Linked DNA regions of Homo sapiens. The protein of the gene in region 1 purifies or fractionates together with the protein of each later gene. This does not show direct contact. Each region holds a gene or a part of one and is shown on either strand. Other genes may lie near its edges.

The links.
Region 2: the proteins of TAF11 (region 1) and TAF4B purify together in Homo sapiens (affinity purification with western blotting, with the first as the bait; one study listed by BioGRID). This does not show direct contact.

What each region holds. Positions count from the first base shown.
Region 1 is NC_000006.12:34,878,043-34,881,542, reverse strand, and holds part of TAF11 (transcription initiation factor TFIID subunit 11), read left to right. Parts: intron 1-1,166; coding exon 1,167-1,254; intron 1,255-1,479; coding exon 1,480-1,576; intron 1,577-2,822; coding exon 2,823-2,953; 3' UTR 2,954-3,500. UniProt on the Homo sapiens protein: The TFIID basal transcription factor complex plays a major role in the initiation of RNA polymerase II (Pol II)-dependent transcription.
Region 2 is NC_000018.10:26,285,213-26,289,244, reverse strand, and holds part of TAF4B (transcription initiation factor TFIID subunit 4B), read right to left. Parts: intron 3,364-4,032; coding exon 2,746-3,363; intron 1-2,745. UniProt on the Homo sapiens protein: Cell type-specific subunit of the general transcription factor TFIID that may function as a gene-selective coactivator in certain cells.

The DNA.
Region 1 (3,500 bases):
ATGTCACTAATTATACATCTAGGTCATAGTTTTCTTAAAAATAGAAATAGCTTTATTACATTTTCTGATTGTAAAAGTAGTATGGGCTCATTGCAAATAATTCAGAGAATACAGAAAAATAGAAAAAAATCACCCATAAACTCACCACGCAGAGTTCACTCTAAGTATATAGTTGGGTATAATGTTTGGGTATGTACCTTTTCAAAGTTTTTTTAGATGTTTGATATGTATAGCTAAATATTTTCATGTCAGTAAATATGCTCATAAATCATAATTTTTAATGGCTACATTGTATCCCATTATGTTGTTGAACTATAATTTAACCAATCCCTATAGTGCTTCTGGTTGGGTATTTTTACTTTTGACATTATGATGAGGATCTTTGGACATATCTTTGCATACTTGTCCATTACTTCCTAAGATAAACTCCTAGAGGTGTAATTGCTAATTCAAATAGTATGAACATTTTCAAAGGCTTTTCATATGTATTTCCAAATTTCTCTCCAAAAAGGTGTTCCAGTTCACTCTGCCAGCATGTGTTTGTGTCCCATATTCTAATACCATTCTTTTTTTAATAGTGGTCTGATTTATGAAAAATGTTATCTATGAAAATAATATTTCCTTAGTTAATAATGAAGGTTGTTTCCCCCATGTTGATTGACCATTGGTATTTTGGTAAATTTCCTGTTCATGTACTTTGTTCATTTTCAAAAATTGACATGGCCCCTTTATTCATTTGAAAGAATTATACATTAGGAGTATTAACTGTTTCCACATATTTTGCAGATATTTCCCCTAAATCTGTTAATGTTGAAAACTACTGGTTTGATTATAAATTTGTATATTAAATTTTTACCATCAGTGTGAAATTCAATAAGATAGAGTTATGGAGATAGTGTCTAATGCTGCAAACAGTCTGTGTAGTACGATACAGTGACCCAGTGTTGTTCTTTTTGTTAACAGGTAAGAAAAGAAGTTTTTGTTTTACGTTTTCTCAAATTCCTTTGGAGTAGAAGTGTTTTATCTTCATTCCTCAAGGCACCAAGCCTAATGCCATTGACCCCTTTAAGAATTCGTTTTTGAATTGTCTGAAACTTTTATTGACTTCATAATATCTTGAGTATTCGTTCTTATAAGTTAACTTAGTTACCTGGATCTTTGTTTAGAATCCTGGTTTCTTCTTTTTCTGAGGAGCAGCTGAACCGTTATGAAATGTATCGCCGCTCAGCTTTCCCTAAGGCAGCCATCAAAAGGGTAAGGATGGACCACCACACTTCATCTCCATCACGTTTTAGAACTGAACTCAAGAGCCATGTCCATTGGCATTTGAAGTGAGGTGTTAGACAAGTCAGGGGATTATTTAGGTGGGAAAAAAAATGCACTTCAGTTATCTTACCTTTTTCTGTGAATTACTTGGTACTGTGTTCCAAAGCCAGTCTTTGACTATTGTGATCACGGAGTCTTTGTGCTTCTTTCAAGCTGATCCAGTCCATCACTGGCACCTCTGTGTCTCAGAATGTTGTTATTGCTATGTCTGGTATTTCCAAGGTTTTCGTCGGGGAGGTGGTAGAAGAAGGTGAGTAGTGTTGGTTACAAATACTGGATTGTACCTGTGGTGGTCTTATTTTTAAGAATATCTACACAAAGGAGCTTATTAAAGCACCTATGGGAGTTCTCATTTGCACTTGAAGTTGACCAAGTGGGGAGCCCTTTATTTAGGAGAACATGACTGTTATTCCTTGCAAGTTTCAATAACAGATGGTAAGGAACCATCTGGGAAATCCCCTCCCTGATTCCTTTCCTCAGCCCAGGGTGAAAGAAGTAGACTTTGTATTTTCTGCAGTGGACTTTGCTCATTTCTGCTGCCAAAAGTAAAGATACAAGAAAAGCAATCACAGGGGTGACCTGTGTGGGATGGTGAGTTGTCCCTAATGTTGTGATCCCTAGGAACTGCCTGACCCCTTTATTGAGTAAAAAGCCTGGCTGTTTCCCATTGCTACTCTAGCTGGTGAAATTTTTTTTTTTTTTTTGAGCAGGAGATATATACTTTTAAATTATTATTATTTTTTGAGACAGGGTCTCACTCTGTCACCCAGGCTGGAGTGCAGTGGCATGATCTTTATTATTTTTTTTAATATTTTTTATTTTTCCTTTTACAAATCACAAATTAAGATGGTATACAAAATGAGATGGTAACAGTGGTGTGATCATAGCTCACTACAACCTCAAACTCCTGGGCTCAAAGGATCCTCTTGCCTCAGCCTCCCAAGTAGCTGGGACTGTAGGCGTGCACTACCATACCTGGCTAATTTTTAATTTTATTTTTATGTAGTTATTTGAGACAGGGTCTCACTCTGTCACCCAGGCTGGAGTGCCTTGATCATGCGATCACAGCTCACTGTAACAGTTAGCTCCTGGGCTCGGGTGATTCTCCTGCCTCAGTCTGAGTAGTTGAGACCACAGGTGCGCACCACCACCCCTGGCTAACTTTTTAATTTTTTGTAGAGACAAGGTTTGGCCATGTTGCCCAGGTTGGTCTCGAACTCCTAGGCTCAAGCAATCCTCCCACCTTGGCCTCCCTAACTGCTGGGATTATAGGCATGAGCCACAGCATATGGCCTATAGGAAATATATTTTAAACTGTTGTCTATGATAAAGCCTGTTATGAGACGTTATACTAATATTCTCTTAAAAAGGAAAAATGTCTGTTTATTTCCTTAGCAAGCTTAAGAAAAGTTAACAAGAATTACAGGACTCAAAAGGATTATGTGATTAGTAAATTATTGTGTGATAATCAGACTTTCTCCTTACCCTCTGTTTAGCACTGGATGTGTGTGAGAAGTGGGGAGAAATGCCACCACTACAACCCAAACATATGAGGGAAGCCGTTAGAAGGTTAAAGTCAAAAGGACAGATCCCTAACTCGAAGCACAAAAAAATCATCTTCTTCTAGACCAAAGTCTAGAAAGGCCTATGTTACTGACGGAAGAAGTATTGGTTCCAGACTTCCTATAAGACTGTCTGCATTGGTGCTTTAGTATCTCAGGCCTCCAAGGATTCCATGATGATTTTAATGTCTTTCTCAAAACTCTGATATTTGTCACACCTAGAAAGTATGTAGCCTGATTGATACTTGCCTTGACTAAATTTTGGGACCTCTTGGGGCATTTTGAAGTATTTAACTGTCTTGACCAGTTGGAAGAAGATACGTGGGCCATAAGCATCTTCTGGACAGGGGAACTGCTTTCAGAGAGAAAACCTTTCCAAGAGAGTTTTGTTTTGTTTTGGTTTCGTTTTGTTTGAGATAGGGTCTTGCTCTATCACCTAGGCTGGAGTGCAGCGGCATGACTGCAGCCTTGAACTCCTGGGCTTAAGTGACCCTCCCACCTCAGTCTCCTGAGTAGCTAGGACTACAGGCACACACTACTGTGCCCAGCTAACTTATTTTTATTTTTTATGGAGATGGGGTCTTGCTTTGTTGCCCAGGCTGGTCGTGAACT
Region 2 (4,032 bases), on another chromosome or scaffold:
ACTAGGATTAAATTGGACTATGGTTTATAATAGATTCACTGATGGTATTCTTTAATTACTTTCAAACGAGTAATATTAATTTTCTAACTTAGTTTATTTGAAAGAATGCCCTAGTTCAATCTTCTCTATGGCATTACCATATAGAATGGTTTATGTTGTTTTGCTCCAGGTAAATCTGTTGTGAAATAAATTACAATCTGTCTTCAGGGTCTGGCCACTCTGGCTCTTGCCACTTTAAACAGGTAGGTGTAAATACTAACATCAAATTTACTGGCTAAACTTGAAACAAAGGACAAACAAGAAAGCAGAATTCACAGGGAAAATGAAATTATTAAAAATGAAGGTAGGAAGTAAAAAAACCCTAAAATTTACCATCAAATTTTGTTGCATTATTTCTTTATTGAAATGATTTATAATGTATAACAAGTCAAACCTACAAAACAAAAATGCTGTCAAGATATTATCATGAGACAGCTTCCTGCTTCAGGACATTCCAGAAACCTAGAAGTTCTTTCTAAGAGCACCATACCCTAATGGAAAAGTCATCTGGGTTCTAGTCTGAGATCCATTACTTGACTGTTTTTTGTTTTGTTTTGTTTTTGTTTTTTTGAGATGACGAGTTTCGCTCGTCACCCAGGCTGTAGTGCTGTGGTGCGATCTTGGCTCACTGCAACCTCTGCCTCCCGGGTTCAAGCCATTCTCCTGCCTCAGCCTCCCAAGTAGCTGGGATTACAGGTGCCCACCACCACACCTGGCTAATTTTTGTATTTTTAGTAGAGACGGGGCTTTGCCATGTTGGGCAGGCTGGTCTCAAACTCCTGACCTCAGGTGATCCGCCCGCCTCGGCCTCCCAAAGTGCTGAGATTACAGGCATGAGCCGCTGCGCCCGGCCACTTAACTGTTACTGGATGAGTCAGCTCAGAATTTCTGGATTCTTAGTTTTCTCCCTACCTTTTTATCATAAAATTATTTTAAAATCCATAGCATATAATGACATGCTTTTAAAACTATGTAGCTATAAAGTATTATTTCACCCCAGGGACCTATATGCTATAGATGCTCAATAAAGATTAGCATTGATTCAAGAAACAACTATGACATATAAAGAGGATTTCAATTCTGTTCAGTGCTACCAAAAAGAGGCCTTTCCTTGGGGCAATTCCTCTATTCCAGTGGTTCTCAAACCTGGCTGCCCAGAACAATGTTTAAGAATCACTGCTTCTAAAAATGTTGTTTCATCTCTGAGATTAAATTCACGTACCCAAGAGAAATCCTGCAAGGCAGTTACATTTCCCCACTTGAAAATGAGATGCAGAGTGGGAAGGGATGAGAAAAGATTAGTGCCCAGGAAATGACCATCATTTATCTGCTCAAGAGTCTGACTACTCTCCAATTCTGGTCACGGATCAACCCCTTTCATTCTATGTCCAAAGCTGCCCTGTTGCCTCAGACGACAATCACTCAGATACCTCTTATTCTGATAAAACAAACAGGGCTGGAAAGGCTACCCAAGAAGCAGAATGAACCAAAACAGAGATTTAAAACACAGCGTCTAATGCAAAGCATTACAAAAGAGAACAAGGACATTCACCAAAAGAACAGCAAGCTCTGTTATCGTAGAAGATAGGGAAGAACTTTACTAAAAACGTTATGATTTTTAATTAATGCATCATGTAGTATCTCCCATGAGTTAACAATACTTTCATAGCCTTCTGGTAAAACTTACCTTTTCTTAAATAAAGAAGAACATTCTAAACACTAATCGACAAACAGCTAAAATTTCCTTCTTTCACCCAAGAACCTCCCAACCTACCAAGTTTAGCAAAAAAACACAACAATCAGACAAAACAAAGGACTATTCTGCAAATATTCTGGGCACTTAAAACATTACAATATAATAAACAACCACAAAAAGCTAGAGAAGTATTCTAGATTAAATGAGCCAGGTACAGTGGCTCATGCCTGTAATCCTAACATTTTGGGAGGTCTAAGTCGAGAGGAACAGTTGAGGCCAAGAGTTTGAGACCAGCTTGGGCAACACAGCAAGACCCTCTCTCTACAAAAAAATAAAAATAAAAACACATTATTGGGACAACTACAGAAATACTGTACCAATATTAATTTCCTGTGTGTGACAACAGGTATGTTGTGGTTATGTTTTACAAAAAAAACCTTTTAGGAGATATACACCATGCACTGTCATAATTTTTGCAACCACTCTCAGGTGGTTCAGTAAAGACTTACGTGTGTGTTTGCTGCTGGGCGTGGTGGCTCATTGCCTGTCTGTAATCCCAGTGCTTTGGGAGGCCAAGGCGGGTGGATCATTTAAGGCCAGGAGTTCAAGACTAGCCTGGCCAACATGGAGAAACTCCATCTCTAACAAAAATACAAAAATTAGAAAGGCGTGGTGGTGCACACCTGTAATTCCAGCTACTCAGGAGGGTAAGGCATGAGAAATGCTTGAACCTGGGAGGTGGAGGTTACAGTGAGCCGAGATCGTGCCACTGCACTCCAGCCTGGGCGACAGAGTAAGACTCTGTCTTTAAAAAAAGGACTTATATGTGTGTTTGTGGGTGTGAGTAGAAAGAGGAAAACAAAGCAAATGAGGTAAAAAAAAAAAAAAATTAATTGGTCAAACCCGTAAACAGTATATAGCCTTACTAGTTTTCTACTAGTCTTACCAGTTTTCTGAATGTTCAAAATTTTCAAAATAAGTAACTGGGGAAGAAACAAAATGTTACTCACTAGTTGCTTGACTTGAACTGCCTGTGGAATCCCAGCTGGTTGTGAAAGGACAGGGCCCGGCTGGGCAAGTTTGATTTGAACTGGAGTCCCAATAACAGGCTTGTCAGATGTGGTCCCAGCAGAAGAAACAACAGGTTTCACAGATGGAAGACAAATAGCTGCACCTGAAGTTTCTCCAAAAGTTACTGCTGGAAGGGACAGTGTTACTGCTGTTCCAGAGACAACTGGCTTTTCAGGTTGCAGTGAGACCGTGGTCACTGTGTTTGCCACAGATGTCACAAGTGGTTTTGAAGTCTGAAGCAAACCAGTTCCAGCTGTTGTTCCTCCTGTTGCAGCAGTTGGGCCCACAGAATGAAGTGTCACAACTCCAGCTTTTGCTCCCACTGGACCAGCAAGTGGGTTCAAAGTTTGCACTGACACAGTTCTGGGTGCTGTTGCTCCAGAAACAATAATTGACTTTTCAGACTGGCTTGAGGACACTGTAGTTGTCACCACAGGAGAAGTTGTTACTGTTGTAGTACAGGTAGCAATGACCATGTCACTAGAAGTCTGCTGAACACATTGCTGGATGAAGCTCTGGGAGTTAGGCAGAAGTTGTCGTAAGGCAACCACGCTTTTCTGGAAATGCAGAGGAATGGAAAAAAACACTGCTAACAAATCAGCTACTTGTGAAACAAAATGTGGTATTTCATACCTTTACAACTTAAAACCAATCAAAAGTGTATCAAGTATTTCAGTTGAAGACAGCTTGTATCACTTACTTATATCCTGCCAATATCCAGGATACAATCAATTTAAAGCCCAAGTGCCTGTTTTCCAATATGAAATTACTATATCTCAGTATTAAACTTATTTGTATTCCCTCAATATCAATTTGGTAAACACTGTATTATACTTTTCTATAATCATCTAAACCCTATAATAGATCATTAGTAACTTCAGTATCTATAAGTTTATTTAAACCACAGCAGAATCTAGGTCTCTTCATTAAGTAACTTTCAAACTTTGGATAGAAATAGGTGCAGTGGCTCATGCCTGTAATCCCAGCACTCTGGGAGGCCAAAGTAAGCAATCACTTGAGGCCAGGAGTTTGAGACCAGCCTAGGCAACATGGCAAAACCCCATCTATACAAAAAATACAAAAATTAGTCAGGCGTGGTGGCACACACGTGTAGTCCCAGCTACTCGGGAGGCAGAGGTTGCAGTGAGCTGAGATCATGCCACTGCATTCTAGCCTGGGTGACAGAGCAAGACCCCATCTCCAAAAAAAAAAAAAACAAAAAAAAA